Homo sapiens: one gene and its partners. The protein of the gene in region 1 purifies or fractionates together with the protein of each later gene. This does not show direct contact. Each region holds a gene or a part of one and is shown in the gene's direction. Other genes may lie near its edges.

What was found.
Region 2: the proteins of SLC15A3 (region 1) and GOLPH3 purify together in Homo sapiens (affinity purification with mass spectrometry; 2 studies listed by BioGRID and IntAct, with this or other methods). This does not show direct contact.
Region 3: the proteins of SLC15A3 (region 1) and GCN1 purify together in Homo sapiens (affinity purification with mass spectrometry, with the first as the bait; one large-scale study listed by BioGRID). This does not show direct contact.
Region 4: the proteins of SLC15A3 (region 1) and LUC7L2 purify together in Homo sapiens (affinity purification with mass spectrometry; 2 studies listed by BioGRID and IntAct, with this or other methods). This does not show direct contact.
Region 5: the proteins of SLC15A3 (region 1) and LMBRD2 purify together in Homo sapiens (affinity purification with mass spectrometry; 2 studies listed by BioGRID and IntAct, with this or other methods). This does not show direct contact.
Region 6: the proteins of SLC15A3 (region 1) and SLC39A14 purify together in Homo sapiens (affinity purification with mass spectrometry; 2 studies listed by BioGRID and IntAct, with this or other methods). This does not show direct contact.
Region 7: the proteins of SLC15A3 (region 1) and MYO6 purify together in Homo sapiens (affinity purification with mass spectrometry; one large-scale study listed by BioGRID and IntAct). This does not show direct contact.

What each region holds. Positions count from the first base shown.
Region 1 is NC_000011.10:60,939,381-60,942,176, reverse strand, and holds part of SLC15A3 (solute carrier family 15 member 3), read left to right. Parts: intron 1-31; coding exon 32-142; intron 143-886; coding exon 887-1,055; intron 1,056-2,538; coding exon 2,539-2,697; intron 2,698-2,796. UniProt on the Homo sapiens protein: Proton-coupled amino-acid transporter that transports free histidine and certain di- and tripeptides, and is involved in innate immune response. Also able to transport carnosine.
Region 2 is NC_000005.10:32,124,216-32,126,767, reverse strand, and holds the end of GOLPH3 (Golgi phosphoprotein 3), read left to right. Parts: intron 1-131; coding exon 132-556; 3' UTR 557-2,052; downstream 2,053-2,552. UniProt on the Homo sapiens protein: Phosphatidylinositol-4-phosphate-binding protein that links Golgi membranes to the cytoskeleton and may participate in the tensile force required for vesicle budding from the Golgi.
Region 3 is NC_000012.12:120,156,716-120,160,215, reverse strand, and holds part of GCN1 (stalled ribosome sensor GCN1), read left to right. Parts: coding exon 1-74; intron 75-192; coding exon 193-391; intron 392-1,600; coding exon 1,601-1,756; intron 1,757-2,185; coding exon 2,186-2,367; intron 2,368-3,223; coding exon 3,224-3,304; intron 3,305-3,500. UniProt on the Homo sapiens protein: Ribosome collision sensor that plays a key role in the RNF14-RNF25 translation quality control pathway, a pathway that takes place when a ribosome has stalled during translation, and which promotes ubiquitination and degradation of translation factors on stalled ribosomes.
Region 4 is NC_000007.14:139,415,394-139,418,893, forward strand, and holds part of LUC7L2 (putative RNA-binding protein Luc7-like 2), read left to right. Parts: intron 1-2,068; exon of another isoform or gene 2,069-2,144; coding exon 2,145-2,336; intron 2,337-3,500. Other genes in the region: FMC1-LUC7L2 readthrough protein, read left to right, coding at 2,145-2,336. UniProt on the Homo sapiens protein: May bind to RNA via its Arg/Ser-rich domain.
Region 5 is NC_000005.10:36,113,888-36,117,387, reverse strand, and holds part of LMBRD2 (G-protein coupled receptor-associated protein LMBRD2), read left to right. Parts: intron 1-794; coding exon 795-928; intron 929-2,267; coding exon 2,268-2,373; intron 2,374-2,866; coding exon 2,867-2,964; intron 2,965-3,500. UniProt on the Homo sapiens protein: Recruited to ligand-activated beta-2 adrenergic receptor/ADRB2, it negatively regulates the adrenergic receptor signaling pathway. May also regulate other G-protein coupled receptors including type-1 angiotensin II receptor/AGTR1.
Region 6 is NC_000008.11:22,365,946-22,370,077, forward strand, and holds the start of SLC39A14 (metal cation symporter ZIP14 isoform a precursor), read left to right. Parts: upstream 1-1,332; 5' UTR 1,333-1,463; intron 1,464-1,592; exon of another isoform or gene 1,593-1,792; intron 1,793-4,132. UniProt on the Homo sapiens protein: Electroneutral transporter of the plasma membrane mediating the cellular uptake of the divalent metal cations zinc, manganese and iron that are important for tissue homeostasis, metabolism, development and immunity.
Region 7 is NC_000006.12:75,888,739-75,892,238, forward strand, and holds part of MYO6 (unconventional myosin-VI), read left to right. Parts: intron 1-1,318; coding exon 1,319-1,527; intron 1,528-2,489; coding exon 2,490-2,568; intron 2,569-3,500. UniProt on the Homo sapiens protein: Myosins are actin-based motor molecules with ATPase activity. Unconventional myosins serve in intracellular movements. Myosin 6 is a reverse-direction motor protein that moves towards the minus-end of actin filaments.

The sequences.
Region 1 (2,796 bases):
GTTCCAGCCTCACCCCTGTCTCTCTTGGCAGATGCAGTCCACCTATGTCCTGCAGGGTCTTCACCTCCACATCCCAAACATTTTCCCAGCCAACCCGGCCAACATCTCTGTGGCCCTGAGAGCCCAGGGCAGCAGCTACACGGTGAGAGATAAAGCATGTGTTCGGCACCCAGTTCAGCCAGGTAGCGGCTTCCTCTGAGAAGAGGAGGAAATGAAACTGCCTTCACACTCCCCTTTCCTGCCTGCAAGGCAACCTCAGGATACAGGAAAAGCACCTGGAGGGTGGGAGGACTTGTGTCACAGCGCAGGGATCCTGCCAAGATGCTCAACTGCTTGAAGGAATTCAGGCCAGCTGCACACCCCCATGCTGCTGCTCTGAAGCAGGTCTCGCTGCCTAATTTGCACCCTCAGATCAAGCATACTTAGGTCCCTTTTCAACTCTTCCTTGTCCCCTCTTTCTCTGGGACCCTTAGATACCTAGATCTCTGCCTTTCCCAGAACTTTCTAAACCAGTTCCTTGGCATTTCAGACTCATGAAATGAATGATCTGCAGAGCTGGCAGATATATGAGAAATTTGCCATTGTAGTCCATTTCCTTGCCCATGGCAGACATCACTAGTCAATCATGACTTTTTTTATGCTGAGCCCATAAATGTTCCATAATCAGCCACTACCAATTGATAAAAGTTAGAATACAAGAGGAACCTATTTGCCATCTCTACATAATCCCACTCCCTGGTTACACAGCTGAGGAGCATGAACTCCAGAGAGGGAAAGGAGCTGGACCCCAGGGTCACCCAGGGCCAGTCTAGAGTCCAGGTCTCCTGACTGCAGCCAGGCTCCTTGCACTCTGCTAGCCTGCCTCTCCTGACTTCCTCCTGCCCAGATCCCGGAAGCCTGGCTCCTCCTGGCCAATGTTGTGGTGGTGCTGATTCTGGTCCCTCTGAAGGACCGCTTGATCGACCCTTTACTGCTGCGGTGCAAGCTGCTTCCCTCTGCTCTGCAGAAGATGGCGCTGGGGATGTTCTTTGGTTTTACCTCCGTCATTGTGGCAGGTGTGCAGAGGGGTGTGGGGCAGGGGGCTGAACTTTGGGCTTGGGGAAGTCTGCTTCCACCATGGGCTGATGCTGAAGTGGTAGCCTGGACCAAGTTCAGCCTCTCCCAGTGGGCGTCAGTGTTGGCTTCCCAGAGGTGCAAGCTGAAAGAGACCCTCCTATCTAATCCAGCTGCCCCTCATTTTGACAGAAGAAGAAACTCAGGCCGAGAGAGGAACAAATATTTTCCCCCAGTGAATTATCAGCTCCTTGAAGGCAGAGATAGTTTTTCTTTTTTTATTCACTGCTATGAACATGCACGTGGGCCCTCCATAAATGTGTTGAATGAATTTTCCACTTAGTGGCAAATGAAGACTTAAAAAAAAATTATCTTCCTTCTTCCATTTCAAAAGGATCTGAAGCCATTTGTTACAAAGTGGGGGTTGGTGGGGGCAGTGGGGGGGATCAGCTAAAGAAGTCTTTCACACTGTTGCACAAACCTGAACCCTTTTTACTTAGTAACTTTATGACCCTGAAGTTCCTTAGAGTCTCTGAGCTATGTCTTTAAAATGGGGACAGGTGTCATTCGGACCCTGAGCAGGGCTCTGCCCTTGTGGAACTCAGTCTGATGGGGGGTGTTGTGAGGATTACAGCAGATGAAGTCTGTAAAGCACTCAGTAGTGTGCCTGGATCACAAGTATGAGCTGGAGAAATGAAAGCTCCATAAACGGTATTGTGTTGAAAGTGTGAAAACCCAACTAGATTTTATTCCAGCTATATCCTTAAAGCAGTTTGTCCTATTTTATCCTCACAATAATCCTGGGAATGTTATTCCTGCTTCTTGAGTAAGGGAACTGAGTCTAGAGAGGTTAAGTGATTTGCCCAAGGTCACACAGCTAGCCAGGCTGGGAACCCAGGTCCCCCAACTCCATGTCCAATGTTCATTCCACTAGAGCACAGCTATCTCCCAAGCAACACAGGAGAAGGAGATAACATAGTTAAACTTGAAAGCCAGGTTAGAAACACTACAGCAATACTTGACGTTGCAGTAGAGAAGTCATGTGATATCATGGAAAGTAGGCCAGCTTTGAAACCAGACATACCAGAGCTCAAATCCAGCCCTGACTACTTATCAGCTGTGTGACTGTGGGCTAGTTGCTTAACTTTCTAGTTAAGCACTTGAAAGTGCTAGTTATTTCACTTTCTTCCGCAGCAAGGATGCATGGTAAATGCCTAGCACATAACAGGTTCTCCATTAATGAGAGTTGTTAGTGTTATTGAGTGCAAAACTCAGCTTGGAGCTTCTAGCAGCCAAGACCAAAAGGGAGGAGTTGGTCACATCTTGGCCCCCTCCTCCACCCCCCAGTCCAGCATTCTTTTCCTTGCCTGCTGCTCAATCTTTGGCTGCTTCATGAGTACCCCATCCCCACCATGTACAAGCTCTTCTGTGGGCTAAGCTGCCTGGGGTGGGCCTGACTATAATCCCCCTCTGCTCCTCCACCAGGAGTCCTGGAGATGGAGCGCTTACACTACATCCACCACAACGAGACCGTGTCCCAGCAGATTGGGGAGGTCCTGTACAACGCGGCACCACTGTCCATCTGGTGGCAGATCCCTCAGTACCTGCTCATTGGGATCAGTGAGATCTTTGCCAGCATCCCAGGTACCCTGGATCCCCTCCCCTGCTCCTGCACCAGTGATGGGCTCTGCCCGGTGGCACCTCAAAGTCAGGTACCCCAGGGATGCAGCCCCCAGGGCCCAT
Region 2 (2,552 bases), on another chromosome or scaffold:
GAGAAAAACATGGCAGATTTTCTTCTGTTTTTCTTGGGGCAAAATCAGATTTTACTGTTTAATAGTACAAAATTTTTGCAAAATTAGCAGATAATACTCATCATTTCTAACTTCTGAAATCTTTTGTTTAGGTGAGACATGGAATCCATTAAAATTGCATTATCAGTTAAGAAATGTACGGGAACGATTAGCTAAAAACCTGGTGGAAAAGGGTGTATTGACAACAGAGAAACAGAACTTCCTACTTTTTGACATGACAACACATCCCCTCACCAATAACAACATTAAGCAGCGCCTCATCAAGAAAGTACAGGAAGCCGTTCTTGACAAATGGGTGAATGACCCTCACCGCATGGACAGGCGCTTGCTGGCCCTCATTTACCTGGCTCATGCCTCGGACGTCCTGGAGAATGCTTTTGCTCCTCTTCTGGACGAGCAGTATGATTTGGCTACCAAGAGAGTGCGGCAGCTTCTCGACTTAGACCCTGAAGTGGAATGTCTGAAGGCCAACACCAATGAGGTTCTGTGGGCGGTGGTGGCGGCGTTCACCAAGTAACTCTGCTCGGGGTGAACCATTCTCCTTTCTCTCAAGTAAACCAGTAGTTTTTCTTCTGTTGACTTCTGGTTTTCTGTAATTTGTACTTTCCCACACTATAATTGGCTTCTGTTTTACAAAATGGTGGGTGGCTTTTTCTTTTTTGTACGTGTACAGGATTCTGCTGGTACGAGAGGCCTTCCTCTTTCTGTTTTTAAAAAAAGTTTTACTGCCATATTGGCATTCCATTCCCTGTTGCCATCCTCACTGTTACCTGTTTTGGGTTTCTGGTCTACTTTGACTTTCAAAGTACCTCCAGCCTCCTCATACGCACAGCTTTTGGATGACCTCAGCTTGAGTTTCTCCATATGTGCATGTACATCTAGCATTCTGCCTACAGTTCAGACAGAAGTCACAAAAAGGCCTTCAACTCACCAAAGGTAAATATCTGTATCTATTAGGACATTTTTTACATAGACTTCAGTTGAGATGTATACTTAGCAAAATTATTTTTAAATTGAAACAGCACAGTAAATACTTAATATAAAATGTCCCTTGGATTTTGCTTCCCATGTAAATCTATTGTATTATTACACTTGTTATAATTTTAACTATAAAGGTCCAATTGTTTCACAGAGCCAGTTTGGGATGGGCTGCATTCCATTTATGCTGTATATAGTTTGAATTATATATAAATTACCCCTTCTTCTGGCCACCCCTGCTCCCATCTTAGTATTTTGCAAGATCTAATCAGTTGTACACCTGGTGCCCCTCGCTTGCTTCAATCATGGTTATTTGATGGCAAAATCGACCTCTTGTCGCTGAAGGAGAGAGAAAAGATGTGTGTCTGATTGGTCCTGGGATTTTTTGAGCTGTGCCATTTATGGTACTCTTTGCCTATGCATCCCCTTGTTAGATTTTTTTTAAATTTTATCTTACTGTTTTTATAATTTCTATTGGGAAGAGGCTTGTGACCAGTACCAATCTTGAGTTTCTTTTTCTGTCCACAAGTAAATTAATATCTGCTCTGAAATGTCATTTATCTACTCACACATTCTTGGGGAAAAAAATCAAATGTCAGTCCTAGCAGATGTTGCATGTAAATTGGTAGCAAGTAATGATTACAACCCAGAGGATTAAGAATTTTGTAACAGAAAGCTCTATGTTTTAATTTTTTATATACAATTAGGATAATTAGCATTGTCAGACTATAAACCTTTGCTTTTTAAAGTTTATTTTTACTATTTCTTTATCACTTTATTGTATCATCACCATTGGTTTCATAATGTAAATACTATATGTTGAACAAATTAAATGTCAAAATTTTTTATTACCATAGTCCATGTTAATAGTGGGGCTTTCAGGTGTTTAGAGATTTTTTTTGTTGTTGTTAACATTCATTGCAAAAGTACTAGATGGTGTATAACTCTAGAGTTGAATTTTAAGGGATTCCCTAATATGTATACTATCTTTTTATCTGAAGTAATAAATAAACAATGATCTTGAAAGTGCCTGAATCAGAGCAAGCATGTCATTTGTGTTTTTGTATTCTCATTTAGTTTTCTTTCAAATGAAATGTTACTTACTGTAGCATTGTAATATTTTAATGCAGGGCTTGGGTTTCTTAAAGGGCCAGATAGTAGATATTTTAGGCTTTGTGAGCCGCCAGCTGTGTCAGTTGCAACTACTGAACTTTACTGAATGAAAACTGTTATAGATAATACAAATAAATAGGTTAGACTGTGTTCCAATAAAACTTTATTTGCAAAAACGGGGCTGGTCAAGGCCCCAGTTTTAATGCATGGAAAAAAGACAGATTTTTCTATCCATTGGAGTAACCTTCTTTACCTTCAAAAATGATACTGCTGGTGGTAACTACATGTAGGAACTATTAAAGTGTCTTCCCATAAAGTAGATATTGGGAAACTGATACCAGTATACTGGAATTTCTTATCGAGTGAAAAGTTCCTGTTTTTCACTTGAGAAGATGTTAGAGGTGAGGTAATAGATTTCTGAG
Region 3 (3,500 bases), on another chromosome or scaffold:
TGACCAGCAAGCAGAAGGAGATGCTGCAGGCCCAGCTAGACAGGGAGGCGCAGGTCCGGAGGCGGCTGCAGGAGGTGAGTGGCCACCTCCGCCACATGCTCAAGCCGGAAGAGTGCTGGGCAGCTTGGTCCTGCTGCTTGCTGTCACAAGCAGGGCCCTGCTGACCTGCCTTCTGGACAACTCTGCTTGCAGCTGGATGGGGAGCTGGAGGCGGCGCTTGGACTGCTGGACATCATCCTGGCCAAGAACCCGTCCGGCCTGACCCAGTACATCCCTGTTTTGGTCGACTCTTTTCTGCCCTTGCTGAAGTCTCCCCTGGCTGCTCCCAGGATCAAGAACCCCTTCTTGTCCTTGGCTGCCTGTGTCATGCCCTCTAGGCTCAAGGCTTTGGGTTAGTCCTTGTTTGCTGGCTGCAGGGATGGCCCAGGGGTGCCCCTGAGTGCTTGGACAGGGTGTGCCCCTGAGTGCTTGTGGGGAGGTGGGTGGTGACCTCAGCTGCTGAGTTTTGTTTTCTTGTGGAAGCAGCCTTGGAGACTCAAGCTGGATATGCTTAGGAGAGACGTAGTGCCTCCTCTTCTCTCCCACTTCACATCTGTGCCCTCCCTCTGAGGAGTAGGTTTTAGATGCTAGTCAGTGTTCGATCTTTGTATACCAGTTTTAAAACTAAGAAGTCAGAAGTTCAGTGGCAGTGAGGATGGTTTGGTGGCTCAGCCCAGCCCAGATCTCCTGAACAGCCACATGACAGCAGTGAGCAGAGGCCCTTGAGACCTTTAGCTTCCTCTTAGCTCTGGAGAAACAAACACCAGGTAGGGTGGCTGGCAGTTCTGGTGGCCTTGCTTCTGTGGGTTGTTTAGTGGCCTTCAGCAGACTTCTATCCTGGCCTAACGGTGATGTTCCCACGGGTGAGGCTAGAATCTGGGAACTGTTCTGAGTGGAAAAGTCAGCTGGTGCATATGAAACCTGCCAGAAGTGTCACCTGGCTGTCTGGGCTTGTTGCGTAGAGGTGGAGATGCTGCACAGATAGAGCTGTACTCTTGGCTGAATGACTCTTTGGTGGCCCTTGTCTCCTGTCAGCGTACTCATTTCTTAAATGTCCAAAGGGCAACTCTCTGCCTACCTGCCCTCTGAGGCTGTCACAAAGATCAAGTGAGAAATTAGGCTGGGGACATTTTGGCGAAGCAGAAAGATTTTTTTTTTTTTTTTTGAGACGGAGTCTTACTCTGTCACCCAGGCTGGAGTGCAGTGGCGCCATCTTGGCTCACTGCCAGCTCCGCTTCCCGGGTTCATGCCATTCTCCTTCTTGAGCCTCCTGAGTAGCTGGGACTACAGGCGCCCGTCACCACGCCCAGCTAATTTTTTGTATTTTTAGTAGAGATGGGGTTTCACCGTGTTAGCCAGGATGGTCTCAATCTCCTGACCTCATGATCCGCCCGCCTCGGCCTCCCAAAGTGCTGGGATTACAGGCATCAGCCACCGCGCCCAGCCGCAGAAATATTTTTTTAAGTCAGAAGGATGAGGCACTGGGTCCCCTGTTTTAGCCTGGGCTGGATTCCACATCTCTGTGTGTCATCTCCTGCTGGGTCTCTCCTCTTCAACACAGGCACTTTGGTGAGCCACGTGACCCTGCGCCTGCTGAAGCCAGAGTGTGTCCTGGATAAGTCCTGGTGCCAGGAAGAGCTGTCGGTGGCTGTGAAGAGGGCGGTGATGCTGCTGCACACCCACACCATCACCAGCAGGGTGGGCAAGGGGGAGCCAGGTAAGGGCTGGGACGGGATCAGGGGCACCAGGCGGTGTGAGCTGGTGCCAGGAATGCTGCTCAAGGCACAGCGTCACCCAGGGCCTCCTGAGCCTGGGGGATTGGACCATATGGAGGATTTCTGAATTGAACCTTCGTAGTCTGTGAATTGCAGTGAGCCCAGTTGAGGGTTTACTTTTTGTCACTGGTGTCCCCATCTCTGTTTTAACTCTCACATCCTGGAACTGGGCAGTGTTTGGCAGTAGAAGCAGAATTGGTTTTAGAACTGGACTACCAGCTGCTGTCTCTGTCCTCGTGCCATGTGCTTCCAGGTGTCAGAACGGGCCTCTGGTCCATCCGTTCCCTACTTTCCCTGAGGATAGAAATAGGCAGCAGTGGCCCGGGTCCCTGCCCTGCCTGCAGAATCTTATCTGCTTCTCGCTCTCACAGGTGCTGCGCCCTTGTCCGCGCCAGCCTTCTCCTTAGTCTTCCCGTTTCTGAAGATGGTGCTGACGGAGATGCCCCACCACAGTGAGGAGGAGGAGGAGTGGATGGCCCAGATTCTTCAGATCCTCACTGTCCAAGCCCAGCTGAGGGCCTCCCCCAACACCCCACCCGGGCGGGTGGACGAGGTTGGCAGGGAAGCTCTGCTCTCCTCTTGGTTTAAAGGGGATCAGGGAGGCAGGGCCTGTGGACACGTTTTGTCTCATGAACAGTTCCTGGTGGGGAAATAGAGAGTGTATGTTTATACCAACAGCAGCCTCACACAGTGTTGTGGGTTTTTTAAGGCAAAAACGGGTCAGACTGCTTCTTTCATGTGATTGTAGACTCTGGCTCTCCTGCCATGCCAGTACATGTCAGTTCACCTGATTGACTTTGTTGGCTGCATGAGATTCTGTGCTATGGATGTACCATGTTTTACTTAACTCTTTACCTGTTGATGAGTTCTTAAGGTTGTTTCTAACTTTTTCCTGTTTTGAACAGCACTGTGATGTGCCCTCTTGTATGTATATGCCCCTTACTTAACCAGTGTGAGCATTTCTTTAGGACAGGTTCATTGGACATGGAATTACTAGATTATATGGCATATTCTGAGCTATACTCTCACCAAGAGTTTTCTTTTCTCAAAGCCTTAATGCAACCTCAGATAGTATTAATATCGTCAGTGATGAGTGAAAGAATGATAATCTCATTTTATTTTGCATTTCATTTAAAGTTGAGTGTCTCTTCATATATTTACGGTCTTTCTGGATTTCATAGTGTGAATTTCAAGCAAGTTTCAGAATTTAGTTTTTAGTTCCTGAGGATCATGGTTGACTGGGGTTAGCACCTGTGGACCTAGTTGTAAACTTAATGAGGTTTCTGTGGTGGGGCCGGTTGTATGATCCAGAATGTTCCCCCGTGGGTGAGAGGATGCCCTGCCGTTGGCCGCCTGGGTTACAGACCTCCCCACAGCCTCATCTCGACTTACCTGCCGTTCTCTCCTAGAATGGCCCGGAGTTGCTGCCTCGCGTGGCCATGCTGCGTCTTCTGACTTGGGTGATCGGGACGGGCTCGCCTCGCTTACAGGTGATGTGGTTTTCAGTTGGCTGTTGCTGTGACTCAGTTCGTGACCCAGACCTCAAGTCCCAGTGTAAAGGGTGGAGTCCTAGTTTCCTTTCAGCCCTTACTTTTGGACTTTGGTAGAAAGACTGCTTTAGAGAGCCAGCCTGACTGTTGTTAGCTAGTGAGGGGTTTTGCTTGGGTCCTGCCACTGGAGCTGGGG
Region 4 (3,500 bases), on another chromosome or scaffold:
AAAATTACCTAGAATTTTTAAAAAGATGAATAAAGTTATACATTGGAAGAAATGGCATTCATAATAACTCAAAATGAGTGGTTAAACGAAGTATGATTTGATAAAACTTACACTGAGAGTTTTATATTTTTTCCCTCTGCTTCCTTTTGGAATTACTCTTTTCAGCTGTGGAAATAACGCTTTTTTTTTTTTTTTTTTTTTGAGACAGGGTCTCACTCTGTCCTGAGTAGCTGGGACCACAGGCGTGTGCCACCATGTCCAGCTAATTTTTAAAAATTTATTGTAGATACGGGGTCTCCCTATGTTGCTCAGGCTGGTCTTGAACTCCTCCCGTTTAAGGATTAAGCAGTCCTCCCATTGTGGCCTCCCCAAGTGCTGGGATTACAGACACAAGCTATTGTGCCCAGCCAGAAATACTCTTTTTAAGTGTGGCTAAAGCTACGTCCATGTCATGTACCTTTCTTTGACTATAATGTTGACATAAGCTGAATGCCTTTTAGCATCGTTCATAACAATCAGTTGAAGATAAACTGTATTTGTAAACTATCTCATATGTATAATATGATTTTGAACTTGCTGTATCAAATTATGAGCAAACCTCACATTCTTAAAGTGACTTAAATTTAAGAGTTTTATTGAGGTATAAAATATATATATATATATATATATATATATATATATATATATATATATATATGATTTACTCTGAAGTCAGTGATTTTTTAGCAGATTTAAAGCTGTGCAACTATCACCATAATCCAGTTGAGAACATTTCCATCATTCTTAAAGTGACTCTTCTAACAAAGTTGCATTCCTTTGTTTCCCCTTGTTTTCTGTCAAACGTTTATGTCCTCTCCATGCCATTTCCACCCTCACCATGCACCCCCACCCACCCCACAAGTTAGTTTGTGACCTGGTGGAGGCTATAAAAGTGTCTTACCTTGTGGGTTTTTTTCTTTTCAAAAAATGTCTTTATTTTGCCAGCACCTTGATCGTATATTTTCTGGTTTTTCAGAATGTTTTTCGTTCTCTATTTCTGTGTATTCATTAGAAATACATTTTTTTTGCAATCTGAGTCAAGTTCTCAAAAATGATTTTCGCAAGTGTTCTTTCTCCCAAACTGTTTGCTCCTTGAATAGAGAACTGTCTTACTGTGTTTGTTTTGTCTTGCTCTCTATTGCCCAGGCTGGAATGCAGTGGTGTGAACACAGCTCCCTGTAGCCTTGACTTCCTGGGCTTGGGTGATCATCCTTCCTTAGCCTCCCAAAGTGCTGGGATTAAAGGCGTGAGCTACTACCCCTGGCCCTTACTCTGTTTTGATTACACTGTGACTAGACATGCATATTGTGGGCATTAAAAACTTACTTCTATGGTTATCTCACCTTTCTAATTCAGACAAAGAGTAATTTGTCCTGACGTATTCTTCCTCATCTCTTCTCTTCCCTTCTGTCCAGGTCTGTCAGGTACATATTTAATTTCTAGAGGATACAAAAATGTTCAAGATATTTAAGTGCAATTAAATTCATAACAAATCTAGATAATATAGCCCCTGGCATATAGTAGTGGTTCAAAAGTTGCTTTCACTTGAAAAACTATTTCTGATAATAAATTTATACATTACTGATTGCTCTCTGAGAATTATCAATCAGTGTCTTGTTTTTGAGACAGAATTTCACTCTTTTGCCCAGGCTGGACTGCAGCGATGTGATCACCAGGTCATTGCAGCAGCCTTGACCTCCCTGGCTCAAGAGATTCTCTCACCTCAGCTTCCTGAGTAGCTGGGACTACAGGCATGTGCCTCTGTGTCCAGCTAATTTTTGTATGTTTTATAGAGACAGAGTTTCGCCATGTTGCCTAGGCTGGTCTTGAAATCCTGAGCTCAAGCGATCCTCCTGCCTCAGACTCCCAAAGTGTTGGGATTACAGGTGTGAGCCACGGCGCCTGGCTGAGAATTATTAATGTTTTATTTTGAATTCTAGTATGTAGTTATTAACACACCAGCAATTCAGTGTAGATTTAGCTGACTTGGAATATAATTGACATTAAGACTACTGAAAAAAAGTTTCTCTTTAAAGAAAAGGCTTTAATAAATGAGAAATATAGTAATTACAAAGGTAGAAACAAAATCAAATCTTGTCTGGTAGATCCAGGTCCAGAGAGCATCGCAGACATCGATCTCGCTCCATGTCACGTGAACGCAAGAGGAGAACTCGATCCAAATCTCGGGAGAAACGCCATCGCCACAGGTCCCGCTCCAGCAGCCGTAGCCGCAGCCGTAGCCACCAGAGAAGTCGGCACAGTTCTAGAGATAGGAGCAGAGAACGATCCAAGAGGAGGTATTGATGTGTCAATCAGAGGATATGGAGCTACCTTAATGTTTTAGAGTTGTTTATGTTTACTTATGTTACTTATGTTTAGAGTTCAGATTATTGGTTTGAAACTTTTGCATCTGGTAATATGTACACATTTATGTGTGGGTGTACAACATTTTTCTGTGATTATATGGGTAGTTTTGAAAGAATATACTTATGAGCCAGAGCAAGAAATTGGAACCAATATGTGTAGAGGTTATTGCTTTTCTCTGCTTAGTGTGTCTTGGAAAAAAGTTCTTTACAGGTAAATAATTTTAAATACCAATACCCTTAGTATGGATCAGCAAATTAGGGGCTCTGAGAAGTCCTTTCATTACAAGAGTTGTTTAGCTTTGATTTATTGTTTTCTAAACTTATTTGAGCTGGGATGCTTTTTCAGAGCAGACACATTCTAGTATATTCTTGTTTTATCTGCACTATAGATATGTATTGTTACATACCTTCAGCTTGGCAAGGCAGACTAATAAGGAGGTTCCAAGACTTCCCTTGGTTTAATGAGAACATTCAAAAGGTGCAGGCATAGGGTAAGGTATGTTTGAGGACTTGAATATCTATTAAGGATAGACAAAGGATTATAATGTGGTAGAAGAGTTTAGCATTCATAGTCTGTATAGATCAAACTGTCAAAACTTCTCAGGTCACATGATGGCCCTTAAACCAGGTAATTTCTGTGTAACGTAAGCCATGTTTAAAATTGCTTTTTTCTTGACAACTATTCAGAAGTATATGTATGATAAACATTTTTTGAGTGCCTAGTACCTACTAGTCTTACATATTCTGTGGATTACTCCACATAAAATCTATAATAAAATCCACAGAAAGCTGTTAAAATCTTTCCTATTTTTTTTTGACTCAACTTTCCATTCCCTGAAATCACTCACAAGCTGAGTTTGTTAATAGGCTCTCAATATTTTATTTCTTATATTCTGGCCTTGTTTTTAGTATTTCTTAAGGTGATTTTAATAATAATTAATTGTATATGTTTTACTGTACTAGACTTAGTAAAACATAAGAAAGACGTATAACATAGTTGAACAACTTTAAGTTGCTCTAAGAAGTTTCCTATGTGAGGCTGGGTGCCATGGCTCACGCTTATAATCCCAGCACTTTGGGAGACCGAGATGGGCG
Region 5 (3,500 bases), on another chromosome or scaffold:
CTTCACCTTAGCCTCCCAAGTAGCTGGGCCTACAGCCATGCACCACCATCCCCTGCTAATTTTTGTATTTTTTGTAGAGTCAGGATTTTGCCATGTTGCCCAGGCTGGTCTGGAACTCTTGCACTCAAGTGATCGTCCTGCTTCAGGAGGATCCATCACACTTGGCCCTGGGAATACTTTGATTATATTTATGCCAGTAAAGCTACATAACTTATAGGCCTCATGTGAAGAGTTGCCAAGGGAATGGGAAAACAGGCTCACATTAGAAGGTAGATTCGAAACTTTTGGATCTAGGATGTTAAACAGTTTGAAGTGTTGGGTTTTTTTCATAATCTTAGTGGGTGATTAAAAAATTCTCTATTACTGTATTTCAATTTTAGAGCATCAATAAATGTTAGCTAGAAATGAAGGCCAGGCTGGGCGTGGTGGCTCACACCTGTAATCCCAGCTCTTTGGGAGGCGAAGGCGAATGGATCATGAGATCAGGAGTTTGAGACCAGCCTGGCAAACATGGTGAAACCCCATCTTACTAAAAATACAAAAATTAGCCGGGCGTGGTGGCACATGCCTGTAATCCCAGCTACTCAGTTGGCTGAGGCAGGAGAATCACTTGAACCCAGGAGGTGGAGGTTGCAGTGAGCCAAGATCGCGCCACTGCACTCCAGCCTGGGTGACAGGGCGAGACTCCATCTCAAAAAAACAAAAGAAAAAGAAATGAAGGATAATGCCTGTAATTGTTAAGTGCTAAAGTCTGTTTGTTTTAAACAAACTGCTTTGTTTTTGTTTTTTTCCAGATTGCCTGCTTCCTTTCCATCTTCTTCCTAAGTATCTGTGTTTATTCTACTGTGTTCAGGATTCGTGTATTTAACTATTATTATTTGGCCTCACATCACCAGACTGATGCTTATAGCCTTCTTTTCAGTGGCATGTAAGTAGGATTATGTTTAGAAACAAGAGAAATGTCATCATTGAGTGTATTCTTATGGATCTTTTATTTTTTGTTGTTTACAGGTGTTCCACTAACATCTATATTTCTATCAGCTAATTGATTAGTTTCAAATATTAAATTGATGTTTGTTGATTGCCAGCTACTTCCTGCTTGAGGTTTAAGGTTAAAATAGGTGTGCTAGGTTAGGCTAGAAGGCAGAAGAAGCATACTTAGTGAGCCCGGATTTACCAACCAGAGATTAGCAAGCAGTAGAAACAATGGACAGTTTAGAGACTAAGTCAGACCTAGATGGTGTTCTAAGATTCAGCGGTCTCTCACTGAGTTGAGGAGGACTGAGAAAACCAACAAGAACAATTTTTCCTGAGGAATTCAGAGAGGATTTAGAGAGATGTCTTCAAGTTGGGCAAGATTGTACAATCTATTACCTGTTCTTATTGTTAAATGAGTCCTATTAGGTATTTATAAAGGATGAACTTAGATAATTTTATAGAGGAGTTGACATCCAAAGTATTTTTAAGCATCTTTTTTGTTGTTTTCCAAATAATTATGGACTCATGGGAAGTTGCAAATGTAGCACAAAAAGTCCTATGTAACCTTCACGCTACCCCCAGTGATATCAAAACCAGGAAATGAGAGTAAAACATTACTATTAACTACAAACTACAGACTTTATTTAGTTCTCACCATTTTTTATCCTTCATTCGTGTGTGTGTGTGTGTGTGTAGATTCCTGTAGCCACCAACACAATCAGGATTCAGAACAGTTCTATCACCACAAAAGAATTATCTCATATTATTTTTTTTTAATTCATACCCACACTTTATTCTCCCCAGCCCCAATTATCCAAGTGTGTGGGTTTGTAAGGCATTCTTTTTATTTGGACAGAATTGAACAACTTTATATCTGTGCTTGTCAGAATGACATATGTTGATACAACTTCAGTTCTTTTATGTACTGAATACAATTCACCTTGAGGATGTTACTGTCCTTGTCATGCTGTGAGATGGATTTTACGGATGGCTTAGTTGTAGGAGATGATACAAAGGCACTCCACAACTTGTGGGGATAAAGCAATGGCAGAAACCATAAAAGCAAGGAGCTTGAGGCTGTAGTCACGTAGGCATTGATGTGGCAATTTTCAGAATATCTCCCAAGTAAGTGAGGGCAGGTCACATTAAGAATTCAATATATATATAAAGCAAATAGATGAAAATTTTAGCTATAATTATCTGAAATGTTTTTAATACATCTCAGTATACTATAAAATGTATTTTGCTGCTTTACTTTTTATATACATATTTTTAAATGTTTGTTGCAGGCTATTTTGCCGTTTGACACCTCCTTTATGTCTTAATTTCTTGGGTTTGACCCATATGGATTCATCTATCTCTCACAAGAATACTCAACCAACTGCTTATACATCTGTAAGTACGGTCAGAAAATAGAATTCCTTAGGTTCACTATCTATATGAGGTGCTGTTATTGTGAAATTTCTTTTAATGCCAGCAGAAAAGTTCTATAGTGTTATTGGTAAAATTTTCTCTTAAAGATTGTATACGTATTACTATTGACTAGATAAAAGTGATTTTCCTTCTTTTATGATAAAAATGTTTTTTTTGGTTCATATATGTTGTCTAGCTGACCAGTATCAAAAGAACTGACCTATACTAATATTAACTTTATATTTGTAGTCAATGTATGTGATAATTTTGAGTAATAATTATATTAATTTTCTTTAAGAGAAAACCTCAATAAAAAGCAGATTTTAAAAAATAAGTCCATTTACTGCTTTTTTTCTACTTTTTAAAAAGTTCAAATGGATTGATATAACTGGTTATAGGCAAATTTTCTAATGATGGAAAGGAATGGAAATTATAGAGCTATTCCAATTTAACTTACTTTTTTCTTGCTCTTCAGATTATGGGTTCCATGAAAGTTTTATCCTTTATTGCAGATGGATTCTATATATATTATCCTATGTTGGTGGTAATTCTCTGCATTGCTACTTATTTTAGGTAAGAAACTTAACATTGTTTTTTCTTTTGCTCTTAAATCTGGATATCCTTTCTCTTTAAAGCTCTTTTAAATATTTACTGATTGAGTTTCAGTTTGTTTCATTGTAGCTTTGGAGAAGCTGGGGATAGTTTGAAGGGACTACTTGAGTGATCAGGTGCGAGTCTCCCTCTAAAAAATTTAAAGAAAAAAGAGGTAGAGTTATTATTCTATTATAATAAATAATACTATTTTAACATTATTCTATTTAGGCTAAAAAATGATAGGATTAATTACAGAATGTTAACTCTAAGTCCTGGCCTTTGACACTGACAGCTATCGTAGCCTGCAAAACACCCTTATGTCCAGCTTTTTTCTAATGACATAAATTAGCCTTAGAGCTTTCCAATAATTATTGCTGGGTGTCTAAATGCTTCAGACCATGGCCAGCACAAAGGGTCAGGTGAGGACCGATTGTAATCAAGCTGTACATTAAGATTAGAGGAGAAATTTTCTCCTGTGTCATAAAGTACATGGCATGCTGTTTTCATGGAATTAG
Region 6 (4,132 bases), on another chromosome or scaffold:
GTGTGGCGGGGACTGGCCCCTTTCTCACAGCCCACTGCAGTGGGATGAGAGTCCCAAACGGATGACATAATGTCTGGAAAGCACCGAGTTTAACCAAGAGAGAAATAGGGTTATTACAAAGATGAAGGGGCTCTGAGGGAAATTCTGCAAGAGATATCATTACTTTGAAATCACTTGGAAAATAAATGAGAGGAATATCACCCTGCCCCCATACCCACTGCAGCACTGTAATTACGGGGTGAGGATAATTGAATTTTAGAAACGCCCGGGGCCCAGCTACACTCTTCAAAAGTAATATGAAGAATCTGACCCCCTCTGGCCTGGCGAAGAGCAAGCTCCTGAGTTCTTGCTACCGGCTCCAGCGACTGTCTGCTTTCCTTTTCTCCTTAGCGCCGCCATCACGGGGGTCCTCCCCGCAAGACCTGCAGAGAGTGGGATGTTGCCCCCTTCCCTGCGCAAATTTAGAGACAGCTAGTGCCGTCTGGGGACCAGTCACTGTGCTAGGATCAGCTCGAGTACTAAGCCGCGACAGTTGGGCTAGAAAGCCCTTCCTCCGAGCCCCCCAAGGCCCAGGTGGCAGCGGGTTCAGCTCATAGAGGAAATTGTCCTGATGTCCTGCAGAACAGAACAATGGGAGTGGAAAGGGTGGTTTATTTTCTCAAGAAATCGACTACATTTCCCAGGCCTGATATACATCTCAATGGGACTGTCCCACAGAGGAAGAGTCTCCTCGGAACTTCTTCACCCCCAAATTAACATTTCTCCCAACTTTGGGTTAGTAGGGTTCTTTAGGCGTCTGATCATTGTGGGAAGCGGTGCGGCATCAAGTCTGAAAAGTGAATATAATATGGTTTATTTGGAACTCGACCAGGAAATTTTGGTTCTTTTGGCTGGTGGAAATATGCAGAAGAAACACCATCTAAGGGCGCGTCCCCTTCTGAAGTACCTTTCCGAACTGGGGAGGGAAGAGAAAAGCTTTTTGGGTGAACCAGAAGTGGTAAAATCACATTCAAATAGAGTGGGTAGGACTCTCCTCCAGGGGGTGTGGGGTGGAGGCTAGGCGGTGAGAGCTTCCCGCGCCCAGGGAGCAGGTCTTCACGGGAGGTTTCCGGAGGCAGGAGGAGCCTGCGGGTCCTCGGGAGTCACGGCCGGATGAAGGATGGGAGCGGGCGCCGACCACAGCCAGGGCCGCGAGGCGCAGGAGGGCGCAGGCTGGCCAGGTCCCCAGCCTGCCGGCCCCACGTGGCAGCCCCGGGGCGAGCGGGGCGGGCCGGGGGCGGGTCCGGCCGCTGACGCGCCGGGTATATAGCCGGGCATGCGCGCGGTGCCGGGGCCCGGACGCAGTGAGGGGGGTCGGCGCGCGTGTCTACGCGGACGCACCGGCTAAGCTGCTTCTGCCGCCGCCGGCCGCCTGGGACCTTGCGGTGAGGCTGCGCGGGGCCGAGGCCGCCTCCGAGCGCCAGGTGAGGGCGGGGACGCCAAGGGCCGCGGGATGGGCAGCGGCGGAGGAGCCCCGCACCCCAGGCTGGGGCAGTGGGTGGGGGCGGGGACAGCCCTGCGCCGAGGACCGGGCGCCGCTCCCGGGCACCGGCACACGCCCGGACGGCTGGGTGGAGGCTGCACCTGGCCGTGGTGCCGCGCTGGCGAGGGGAGAGGTCAAGGCGCGGCCTGTCCGCCTGGAGGGTGCGGGATGCTAGAGCCGCAGAAGGGTGCCCAGAGCGTGGGTCGCCGCGCCGAAGGCTGAGCCAGGCTCCCGGATTCCCCGCGCGGACACGGACGCAGAACGCAGACAGTAGGTGGCCAATCCGAGGGGCGGCTCTTGGGGCGGCTCTATGGGGCTCTGGGGTCTGGACTTTGCTTTTCAGGAGCTGCGTCCCCGGGCCCCCGCCGGTCCATCTCCCCTCTGAAGGTACATGTACCCAATCTTCCGGCTGAGCGAATCTCCAACCTGGCTTGCCCACGAGGATGGCTTTCTGGCTATTTTTGGTCCTTAATGACCAAGTTAGGTGGTCGGGTTCAGGCTGCCCCCTCTTGGTGGGTGAGGGCAGTGGGACAAAGTCGCCATCCGAGCAGTTTCATCATCTGATCCTGAGGTCCAGTTGAGCCGGGAAAATTTCGTCAGCTCTGGACTAGGGGTTCACTTTTGAGGATCTGGTGCTTGCCAGGGCCTGGGTTCCAGAGACAGGCTTCTCTAAACAGTTAAAGGGCTCGGCTGTACAGGAGGACTCCGGACACAATTGGGGAGTGGCTAAGTGCTCTCTTGTGGCCCGAATGGAAGCGTGGGGTTAGGAGCAGCTTTGACCTGACCCTTCTTCCTGGAGCAAGCCTGGTTTGGGTTTACGTCTTTAGTGGCTCTCCCCTAGGAGCCCCAGGCCATTGGGACGGCTGTGCTCCTGCTGAGGAGTGGCCTGGGAGTTAGCCCTGGCCTCTGTCCCTGCTCTGCTCTTAACTGGCCCTGTGACCTTGGGAGGGTCAGGTCAGTACCACGGTCAGACTAGATCTCCTTAACCACAGCATATACAATTCCGTAATCCTTCCCTCTTTTATTTTATTTTATTTTATTTTATTTTATTTTATTTTATTTTATTTTATTGTATTTTATTTTATTTGAGACGGAGTCTCACTCTGTTGCCCACGCAAGAGTGCAGTGGCGCGATCTCGGCTCACTGCAACCTCCGCCTCCCGGGTTCAAGCGACTCTCCTGCCTCAGCCTCCCGAGTAGCTGGGACTACAGGCGCGTGCCACCATGCCCGGCTAATTTTTTGTATTTTTAGTAGAGACGGGGTTTCACCGTGTTAGCCAGGATGGTCTCGATCTCCTGACCTCGTGATCCGCCCACCTCAGCCTTCCAGAGTGCTGGGATTACAGGCGTGAGCCACCCTGCCCGGCCTATCCTTACCTCTTAAAACCTAAGTCCTAAATATGGACAAGAACTTGTCCATATACATCCTTGGATGCATATCCCCCGGGACGCAGCTCCTGAAAAGCGAAGTCCAGACCCCAGAGCCCCATGGAGCCACCCCAAGGATATACATCCTTGGTAAAGCAAGAGAAGGGATGTCCAGAATCATAACTTAGCAGCTGGAATTAAAAGCCACATGTTCCTTTTCCTGGTGGAGGCTCAGAGAGGTGAGTTTTCCATTACCTGTGTGGTAGCCAGGAGATAGGCTAGTGGTCCTCTTGCTGGGGTTGGTTTGCAGGTAAGACTAGAGGGCACCAGACAGTGGAAGGGGGTCCTCTGGATACTGTCTCTTCCCAAAGGGCCAGGCCAAAAGCAGGTTCTTGCTTAATTTATCATATTTTACTCATCTGGCCTCTGGGGCCTTGAGGGAGGGCAGTGCTGAGCGGGAGATTCGATCCAGGTGTTGACTGACAGCTGGCCAGCCAGTGCAGAGGCTAGAGGAACTCACTGACCTGAGGACTTGGGGGCTGGAGCAGCTGCATCATTGGCCTTGTATTTTAGGCCAGAGTAAGAATTTTGGGCTCTGGGACTCTTAGCCTGTGGATGTACATTGCCTGGTCTGTGCTGGGCTCTGCAGTGGCCACCATGGCGGGTGCACGCAGAAGGCCTGGCCCCCACCCTTCCAGTGCAAACTCTTGGGGAGAAACAGCATCCACGGGTGAAGAACAAGATAGCAACACAAGAGAAGCCTCCATACTGTGCACAGTTCAGTTCAGAGAGCGGGCATCCTTGAAAGACGGGAATAATTCTGGCCTTTTGAGATAGGTGGGTCTCTGTTCAATTCCTGGCCCCGTCACTCTCCAGCAGTGAGAAATTTCTTAACTTCTGTTCTCACCAGCTTGCAGGATGTCGTGATTTTGCCTGGAACATAGTAGAGGGCTGCTTGTCATCATTCTCATCGTCATAATTTTTGTGGGGTGGAGTGGGTTATTTAGGGGTCCCAGAGGCTGATAGTTGGGTTGGGTTGTAGGAATGGTGTGAGCCCAGGCGTAGGGTTGATTCATCTCTTCCTTGGCAACATGGATGCAATTTCCCTGCCCTTCTGGGAAGGCCGCTTTTCTGTGGCCTGCCAGGGATTGTCCCACAGATCAATTGGGCAATTTTAGGGAAAACAAACTTTTTTCTACCTTTGGTTCTGGGAGCTGCTCTGATTTCTTCAGAGAAGAAATG
Region 7 (3,500 bases), on another chromosome or scaffold:
ATACATTTTTACAGTTCTTATCATAATATACATTTCAATTTCTATCTCTACCATTGTTATATACTTGTCCATGTTAATACATTATCTTCATAGATACGATAATGTAATTAATTTTGTGAAAATAGCAATTTCCTCTCCAATTTTGTAGGAAAAAAATGGGATCCCTTATTTTGTTTTGATTTTTATTTATTTGATTACTAGTGGAGTTGAAGACTTTTCTATATGCTTGTTAATTATATTTCATATTTCATTAATTACATTTCATATCTTCTCATTATATTTTAGAGTTTTAATGCTTTTTCTCAGTTTCATAGGTCAGTGCAAGTATGTGGGATATAATGAATATCTTAAAGTGAGCGTTTTATATTTTCTGCAGATATTTTATGTAAACAATGGCAATCTTGGAGGTAGAAAGGAAAAAAAAGATCTGGAGGAAAATGAAAATGCTATAAATAGACTCAGCTGATTTTATAAATCTGTCAAGGGCCATCTTTGTTTATGTGGTATCATTATAAATTAAAATTAACCCACCCACATTTTTTGAAGGCTAATTTTAGAAATCCAATAATTTTGGATATATTTTGTAATTTTTAAAATATTCTCTAGGTACTATTTGAACATTATTCTAAAATAGTAGTAAACTATTGCTAAATTAGCTGATCATTACTTAAGAAATAATTCTTTTTGAGATAAGAGGCTTGCTCTGTTGCCCAGTCTGGAGTGCAGTGGCATGATCTCGGTTCACTGTAACCTCCGCCTCCCGGGTTCAAGCAATTCTCCTGCCTCAGCCTCCCGAGTAGCTGGGACTACAGGTGTGTACCACCATGCCCAGCTAATTTTTGTATTTTATTTTTATAAGAGACAGGGTTTCACTATGTTGGCCAGGCTGGTCTCGAACTCCTGACCTCAGGTGATCTGTCCACCTTGGCCTCCCAAAGGGCTGGGATTATAGGTGTGAGCCACTGCACCCGGCCTAGAAATAATTTTTAACTGCAGTATATTACCTTATCCACAGATTACCTGTCTAATTGATGTGTAATACTTGTGTGCAGAGATAACATAAAACATTTTTTGAATAGTATTTAATGTACAAACAGTATAGTAAAGATAACGGACGTATTGCTTACCATCTTACCTAGTTTTTGCTGTATTTGCATATTGGAGTAGTTTTTTATTTTAAATTGTAAAAAACAATAAAAACATTAAAATTTATCTTAGCCATTTTTCAGTTTATAATTCAGTATTGTTAAGTATATTCACATTGTTGTGCAACAGAAGAAATAAGCTTTTACGTACCTATTTATTTTATTTTTTAAAGTCCACTATGATGACGCAGGAACAAATCCAGAAAGAATATGATGCACTGGTTAAAAGCTCAGAGGAACTCCTCAGTGCATTACAGAAAAAAAAACAGCAGGAAGAGGAAGCAGAAAGGCTGAGGCGTATTCAAGAAGAAATGGAAAAGGAAAGAAAAAGACGTGAAGAAGACGAAAAACGTCGAAGAAAGGAAGAGGAGGAAAGGCGGATGTGAGGCATTTATATTATTTTGAATAAGAGACTTAAAGAAATAGTGAATTCTTGGTATTGACAGTGGTTAATGACAATTATTTGTTTTGTTTTGTTTTTGTGACAGGGTCTTGCTCTGTTGCCCAGGCTGGAGTGCAGTGGCGCGATCTTGGCTTACTGCACTCTGCCTCTCGGGTTCAATCGATTTTCCTGCCTCAGCCTCCTGAGTAGCTGGGATTACAGGTGCGCACCACCACGCCTGGCTAATTTTTGTATTTGTAGTGGAGACGGGGTTTCACTATGTTGGCCAGGCTGGTCTCAAACTCCTGACCACAGGGGATCCACCCGCCTCGGCCTCCCAAAGCGCTTGGATTACAGGCGTGAGCCACCGTGCTCGGTTGACAATTCTTAAAACTGTGTTCTTATTTTAATGAACTAATTTTGTAATAAGTTTGAAAATTGAGAGAATAAGGTCATTTTATAATAGTGATACCATAAAATAATTTTAACTATAATCTGAATTTGTTAGCCTCTTACACCTGAGGATTTTCTTCTTTTTAAAACTATGATTTGTTTATTGTTTTCTAAGCTAGATAAATGACACTTCTACTTTTCTGCAGTTTTAAAACTGATAACATTTTGAAAGATTGCCATGATAGGGTAGAGAGAACAGATGAGTTGTTGACTTGGAGAGGGACTAGAGGGAAGCACCTTTAATCAGGACCTTACAGCCAGGCTTTGTAACCACATTCATCTAGAGATGTTAAAAGTTATAGAATATAATTATATTTGTTTTATTTAAGAATTATTGTCAATAGAGTTAAATTTTATTTTATTCAAAATAAGTTGATGTATGTGGCCAGGAGGTTAATTTGCATTCCCAATCTGTTACCTTTGTTTATTATTAAATAATAGTTAAATTGCCTTCTGAAGGATTCTTTATTTTCTGTTAAATTTTTGAAGAGTTTTCTATTTTTTATTAGGAAACTTGAGATGGAAGCAAAGAGAAAACAAGAAGAAGAAGAGAGAAAGAAAAGGGAAGATGATGAAAAACGCATTCAAGTATGTACTTACTGGGTTGAATTTCTATTAAAATGGAACCTACAGGCTGGGTGTGGTGGCTCATGCCTGTAATCCCAGCTCTTTGGGAGGCCGAGGCGGGCGGATCACGAGGTCAGGAGATCAAGACCATCCTGGCTAACATGGTGAAACCCCATCTCTACTTATACGAAAACAAATTAGCCGGACATGGTGGTGGGCACCTGTAGCCCCAGCTAATTGGGAGGTTGAGGCAGGAGAATGATGTGAACCCAGGAGGCAGAGCTTGCAGTGAGCCAAGATGACACCACTGCACTCCAGCCTGGGCAACAGAGCGAGACTCCATCTCAAAAAAAATAAAAAATAAAAAATAAATAAAATAAAATGGAACCTATGAAAGAAGTGAAAATGAGATCTTGATTTGCTAGATAAGCTGTCACTAGTTTATCCTAGAGACCAAAGGCCAGTTTTTGAAGTGGTTATGGGAATGGACTTTGGAGCTAGGGAAGTGGGTTCAAATCCAAGATCAGTCACTGACAGAAATTGTGACATTGTACACATTATAGTGAGGAACTATGGGTCACAGTTGTCTCTCTGTAGAATGTGGATAAATAATAGTTGCAAGCATTTGACAGTTAATACATGTTAAAGCATTGTGAACACTGTGTAGATCAATAAATATTAATAATTGTTTTTATACCTAGGGGAAAGTCAAATGAAAATTCACTTAAAATGTTAAGTTTTAAAATATCATATAACTTTGTAGATACTGGAATTAATAAATTAGGATTAAGAGTCTCTCTCCACCCCTAGTTTTTAAAAAGTCCCATGTTGAGAATAAATTGCTCATGTATTTGAATTTCTGTTTGTCATGGCTTTCATAATATATCCTAAGCATAACCAAAACTTTAAATTCCTGACATCTGCTCTCTAGGTGTTAGTGTTAATGGGATGCC